Homo sapiens: one gene and its partner. The protein of the gene in region 1 purifies or fractionates together with the protein of each later gene. This does not show direct contact. Each region holds a gene or a part of one and is shown on either strand. Other genes may lie near its edges.

Region 1 (3,500 bases):
AAGGAAGCGCTCCATTCCTTGAGTCTCAGGTAAAAACCAAACATAAAGGATTTTCCAGAAGAAATTGGTCTTCAGACTTCAGTGTCATTAAAATGCTCTTAGTTTTTATTTTCCCTTTAACATTTATCTTGTTTAAAACCAAGGTAGGTACATAATTTTGATTTAGATTCTGGGGAAGGGAAAATTGAATTTTCTTAATATTTTAGTTATCAGTTATGCATCATTTCTTCATGGCTTCTAATCCAAGCTGATTTTTCTCTGTATGTTGTCATTGACTTACTTTCTGATAATAATCTTGCTGAAATGTTGTTTTACTGCCTGTTTTTACCTGTAGAGTCGTGCTAATTTAGATGAAGTTGACTGATTTTGAAAGTTCTGAATTCTTATTGGTTTCCCCACTAGCCAAGTGTGATAAAGAAAATGCAGGAAGGAGACTCTGCTGACTCTGTGGTTACTTCTCGTCAAATAATTTTCCAGAAAACTGTCCCATCAACCCTAGAGGTTATTCTTTCAATTCATTTCATTTAATCTAGCAACAACATGTAGATCAATCTGTAGTGGTATTTTTAAAGGCACACGTATTTCTAGATTTAAGTTTTCAGGCTGTAAAAAACAGAAAAGTTTCTAGAAAACATTCTAGTTTAAAATGTAAACCAGGGCACTCACCTGCTCCTGGTTTGATATCTCTTCCCTCTGTAATCTGTGAAGCTATTAACCTACCTGGTCATATTGTATTATGCCTCCCTGAATACAAAAGTTTCTTAGCTTTCCTTTCTTTTGCCTTATTGGAACTAACACTAAAGAAAGTGAGAGAGAAACTCCTGAGACAGTGAACTTCAGTTGTAAATAAGATTGGAGCGGGCACAATGGCATGTGCCTGTAGTCCCAGCTCCTGGGGAGGCTGAGATGGGAGGATCACTTGAGCCCAGGGGTTCGAGGCCGACCTGGGCAACATAGGGAGACCCCATCTTTTAAAAAAAAAATGTAAGACTCGAACACTGTACAGATCACTGTAAGAGGCTCTAATAGTGTCCTATTTGTGGGAAATATTTCATTACAATGCCTTGAACACAGTCACACTCAATATTTATTGAATAATAAGTGCTATTATGGATTCATTTCCCTGTATAAAGAAATACAATTTACAAATATGGAAAATATTTACATAAATTTGTAGAATGTTGGGAAGCTCTCTGTGATAACAGTATATGAAGTATAGATTATATTTAACGAGGAAAACTTTTATCCCCACACATGTAAAGCTAAGTAACTTATAGAGCAACATCAATAATGTTATTTAATCTTGAAATATAAAATGATCCAAAATTTATCATAAGAGCAAATCTGTTCTTCAAAAAATTTACTGCAAAGTATGTTCCAGTTTAAAGAAGTTGCAACTCTACCTACCGAATGTATTCTGAGCTGAAGTTTATAGTTTATCATTTCAGAGGAGAAGAGATTGCAGCCATAATTATTAGATAATAACATGAGCACTGTATGGTCCCATCACAGACCTGCATGTAGCAGTTGCCCTGATTTTCTTAAAGGATTCTTATTTTAGAAATGAGATACCATCAGAATTTCTAATTTAGCTTTTATATTTCAAATATAGGGCACAGAGGATTGGGTTATTGTAGACAGAATACCAACTGAGGTAGTTGATGGTGATTTGAAAAAGATTGTGACTTACAAGGTGGTGACCGTGAGCAGTAAAACTGGTGATCTCCCAGCTGACATGTTAAAATCTGGCACTATTAAAATGCAAAGCTTCGAAGAATTGGCTCGAGAAATGCAACTGAAAGAAGACAGCAAACAGAAAATATACACTCTAGGAAAATCCTATGACACTGTCTCCGGGAGAATTGTTACTATGACTGGGAAAGCTAAAGAGGGTGAGAAAGTGGAGCAGCCCTCCACTACAGAAGCACTTCAGAAAATGGAGAAAGAAATACCAGAGTCCATGAAGATCATTCCCGGCCTGGCAGAATATGAGGTCCTGGAAACCCTCGCTGATGAGAAATCCAAGAGAGGACCAGAGGTCCAGACGACACAGCGGAAATTGTCCGAATCCCTGGCCCCCATCAAGGAGGCCGAGTCTCGCCGGCAGAGTCCTGAAGAAGATGACCTCAAGAAGGCTCCACAGCTGGAGAAGGATGTGGCCGTCCTCCCTGGCCTGGAAGGCAGACGCTTCAGCAAAACAGAGCAAGTGCCCGAGAGTGAGGTCTTAAAAGTGGGCCTCTTTGGTCCCCGAAGGAAGAGCCTGTCCGAATGGAGATATTCCCAGGAACCAGCCTTTACCGTTGCTACTGCCCATTACGTTACTGAGTCATCCGCCTCCCGAGTAGTGGTAACCAGTGTCACTCATTGGGGCCACAGTTTGCAATTCCAGCATGACAGTTTTTGAGGCAGTCCCCTTCCACCCCAAACCTTTCCGTTTCTCTTGCTGCTTGGCTTTATGTTGAGAGCAGCCAACCCAGCTTCTTAATTTTTTTTCATGGTTAAATCAATACCGCAGTGCAAAGTCAGCATTAAAACACTTTCCATTTTATTTCCAGCTCCCTGTTCCCAAGATGTGATAGTGCTGCTGTGGCTTGCAATGAAGGGGAAAAAATATATATATCTGCTTAAATCGGCGCCACCCTGATCCTAATAACCGTCTCTGCTTTACCAAACAAGAGCACCTGGTTTTCTATTTTATTTCCCATTCTTTTCGTTTCCAAACTCTGAGATTCCTTCGTTCTTCCTCCTCCCTGTCTCCTCTGCCTACGATTTTGTCTAACAAGCTGTGAATGTTTATGTGCCTGAGTTTGTGTCTCTCTTTTGTGCTTGACTCTGCCTCTCTTTGTTCACTCAGACTAAGCAGTCTTCTGGGGAAAAGCTCATGGATGGCTCTGAAATCTTCAGTTTATTAGAGTCTGCGCGAAAACCAACAGAATTCATAGGAGGGGTTACTTCTACTTCTCAAAGCTGGGTTCAGGTGGCCATTTGTTTTCGTCCTTGGTGTTTCTGAATGTGCCCATGTGCCTTTCCTTACCCTTTTTTTGGGCGTGAGTGTGTGGTTGCATCCAGCTGGCTTTGCCTTCAACATCTCAAAGGTGTCTTCACTTATTGTCCTTTGTGTCTGCTTGGCATATCTGTCACATGCCTTTAGTTGCATCTCAAGAATGTACTTCACTATTCGAAAGGCGATCATATTGAGAAATTTTAATAGAATTAAATATCTAAAAGCATTATGTCTCACCAGTTGAGTCTAAGAAAGCAGCCAAAACCAACGTGAATGCGCTGCAATGCTTTGGTTTTTGTTTTGTTAATTGCACTTTATCCTGCCTTCCGTTTGTTTTGCGGATGTCCTGAAGCAGCAGCGCAGGTTCAAGTGCATGCACCAGGGGCAGGGGCAGGCATCAGAGATTTCAGTGGGAGAAATGAAAGCTAATTTATATTTTTCGTCAGTGTTTCTGGTTATAAGCACTTGCTGCTGGCTTTAGACATCCTGGCGAGTG
Region 2 (3,383 bases), on another chromosome or scaffold:
CTTTACCAATATTGAGGAAGCTCCTAACAGAACCTCAAAAATACATAACCACATAACCTTTTTTGATTTTTGAGATGGAGTTTTGCTCTTGTTGCCCAGGCTGGAATGCAACGGTGTGACCTCAGCTCACTGCAACATCTGCCTCCTAGGTTCAAGGGAGTCTCCTGCCTCAGCCTCCCAAGTAGCTGGGATTAGAGGTGCCCCACCACCACGCCCAGCTAATTTTTTGTATTTTTGTAGAGACAGGGTTTGACCATGTTGGCCAGGCTAGTCTGGAACTCCTGACCTCAGGTGATCGACCCACCTCAGCCTCCCAAAGTGCTGAGATTATAGGCATGAGCCACCGTGCCCAGCCCCTATAAAGATTTAAACAAGCTTATGGCCTCAGCTCACTGCAACCTCTGCCTCCTGGGTTCAAGTGATTCTTGTGCCTCAGCCTCCTGAGTAGCTGGGATTACAGGTGCCCACCACCATGGCTGGCTAATTTTTGTATTTTCAGTAGAGATGGGTTTTCACCGTATTGGCCAGGCTGGTCTCAAACTCCTGACCTCAAGTGATCTGCCCACCTGAGCCTCCCAAAGTGCTGGGATTACAGGTGTGAGCCACCACGTCCGGCTGGGACCATATCTTAATGAATACATTTTTTAAATGAAGAACCTAGAACAGAGAACCATTAACCCTAGCTTTTAGGAACATTTAGATGACTTACATTTTGGAGGGGAAATGTCTATGTACCTTTAAAGTGTCTCTACATCAGGAACACACAAAGAAAACAATTCCAGCAACCCTAAAATTAGGCTCAAATGAAATCAATAAATATTGTCTGGCTGATCATTATAAATTTTATCTTTTAAAAGCCTGACCTGCTCTTTTTTCTCAGCTTCTATTTTCTCAATGCTACGGTTCTAACTATCTAGTGAATGTTACAGCTCAATCTTTGAAAGTCACTTAGTCTAATGAGGAAATAAGCCCAGAGAGGTGCCCACATGCTTTGGTCTCCTGCCTTTTTGCATATTGCATTGACCACAGCAACACCAACAAGAAACCAAGTACACTCTGAATCTTCTCGACATTTTGCTATCAGAGCAATTTATGTTCATGGAAAGTCACAATTATAAATTTGTTCCTTTTAAAAGGAACTCAAATGGAATTTCTAATATTAGCCTGTGAGAATGTCCTGACTGATTACTGAAGAATGGACAAACTTCTAGGATAGAATTATGGGTGTTGCTCAGATGGGTAGCAGAGAAACTGGGGAAGCTCTTGTACTGGCCATTGAAATGTTAACACTGAAACCCTGCAGCAGTGGGGAGAGTGTGCATGCTTTCTGCTGCTGGTAGGTGGTAAGGCTGTATGATGTTTTAAAGCACAGGCTCAAAAATCACAATTCACTATCTACATGACCTTAAGCAAGTTATTTTACCTCTCTCTATAACTCAGTTTCCTCAACTATAAAGTGGGATAAAAGCGTATCTCATAAGATAATTAAGAATATTATAATACATAATAAAGAACTCAGGACAGTGGCTAGTACAGAGGTCTCAGTAAATTTTAGTTTCCATTTCAAGTGGCTGTTTTACTTGCCTATTGTTAACAGACTCAGAAATTCTGAGAGTCTGGTTAGAAAAAGGAAAATTCGTTTTTTTTCAGTCTACCTTGCAAGATAAGGGAAACCAAGTGACAGTGCTGAAATGAACACTGGGCTGAGTGGTACCAAACATCAGTTTAGTCACTAATTAGCCATGTGATCCTGTTAAGAAGGTTAGCTTGTATAACCTTATTTTTAAGGACACATAATGATTTCAAAAGTCCAAGTATAAATCAGTAATTACAAATCAGCCTTATAATACCCAGGTATCTATGAAAACTAAAAATTGAGAGTTGATAAATATAAGAAATTACTGCTGATCTAAAAGGAAGTGGCAGAAATCCCCTGAAATGTGTTAAATCTTTGCCTTACTAAATACTTGCCAGAAGCTATAACTATATTTTCTTATTAATTTCATGTTCATCTTCTCAACAAGTAAACAAAAATAAAGCCAACAAAATTCTCATATTTGCCAGCATTATTTTTTAAAAAACATTTCTCATTAATGGTTTTAGTCAAGAATGAGAGCAAAGTAATATAGAAAACCTAGGTTTATTTGTTAAGCTATTACAAAAACAAAACAATTACCATTTGAAGTACTTTGAGGACTTCATCCCAGACTCACTTGTTCTGTTACAGAAACTAACCTAAAAGGCTGGAAATTAAAGGATACAACCTAAGAGGTTATAACAGCAGACTGGTAAAACATGGCGAAAGGAGCTCTCTCTTTCCCCCGCAGTCTACCAAGCTCCTGTGCATTTTCACCACATAGATCTGCTAGCTTACAAATGATGCACACAGTCAAGGTAGGAATTATAGGCCTACTCAGAGGGTACCCAGACACAGAAAGTTTTAGGGTAAATAGTAAACTACAAATACCCTCTTGGTTAAGTTAATTCATCAAGTTAATAAAGGTCATATTATCTATCTTCTGCTGGTGACAACTTGTTGTCTCAGTATAGTCTGTCTCAAGAAAGAACTGGTTCAGGTTGGGTTTTGGAAAAGGAAAAAGACTTTCATTAACTTCACTCCAGAGTGGAAGAGGCACCAAGTTCTCTCCTACACTTAGGAGCAGAATCTGAAAAACAAAAGGTTTACAGTGTTTACAGTAGTGATAATAATAATAGCTACTACTTATTGAATGCCTAGTCACGAGTGCCAGAGGACTTAGGTACATTTTATCTTAGCCTCTGCAACAACCCTGCAAGGTAGGTATTATCCTCCCCATTTTACAGATGGGGGAAGTGAGGATTAAATAAGTTATATGCCTTGTCCAAAGGTGTACACAAGTATGTGGCAGAGTTGTGATTCCACGATTAACGTGCCGTCTCCACCCCACCTCATGCACTGAGAAGTCCTAGTTCCATTATCCTGAAATTATTAACAGTTGCATAAACTACTCTTAATTATTTATTCCTTATTCATTCTTTTAAAGCATGTACAATTTTAAATGATTAAAAATTTACACAGCCAGGTGTGGTGGCTCACACCTGTAATCCCAGCACTTTGGGAGGCCAAGGCAGGCGGATAACCTGAGGTCAGAAGTTCAAGACCAGCCTTACCAAACATGGAGAAACACTGTCTCTACTAAAATTACAAAATTAGCCAGGCGTGGTGGCACATGCCTGTAATCCCAGCTACTCGGGAGGATGAGGCAGGAGAATCACTTGAACCCGGGGGGGCGGAGGATTCGGTGAGCCGATTGCACCATTGCACTCCAGCCTGGGCAACAAGAGCGAAACTCCATCTCAAAAAAAAAAAAAAAAAAAAAAAAATTAGCCGGGTGTGGTGGTGG

What was found.
Region 2: the proteins of EPB41L3 (region 1) and CLNS1A purify together in Homo sapiens (affinity purification with mass spectrometry; 3 studies listed by BioGRID and IntAct, with this or other methods). This does not show direct contact.

What each region holds. Positions count from the first base shown.
Region 1 is NC_000018.10:5,397,498-5,400,997, reverse strand, and holds part of EPB41L3 (band 4.1-like protein 3), read left to right. Parts: coding exon of another isoform or gene 1-29; intron 30-2,854; coding exon 2,855-2,977; intron 2,978-3,500. UniProt on the Homo sapiens protein: Tumor suppressor that inhibits cell proliferation and promotes apoptosis. Modulates the activity of protein arginine N-methyltransferases, including PRMT3 and PRMT5.
Region 2 is NC_000011.10:77,614,030-77,617,412, forward strand, and holds the end of CLNS1A (methylosome subunit pICln), read right to left. Parts: intron 2,667-3,383; 3' UTR 501-2,666; downstream 1-500. UniProt on the Homo sapiens protein: Involved in both the assembly of spliceosomal snRNPs and the methylation of Sm proteins.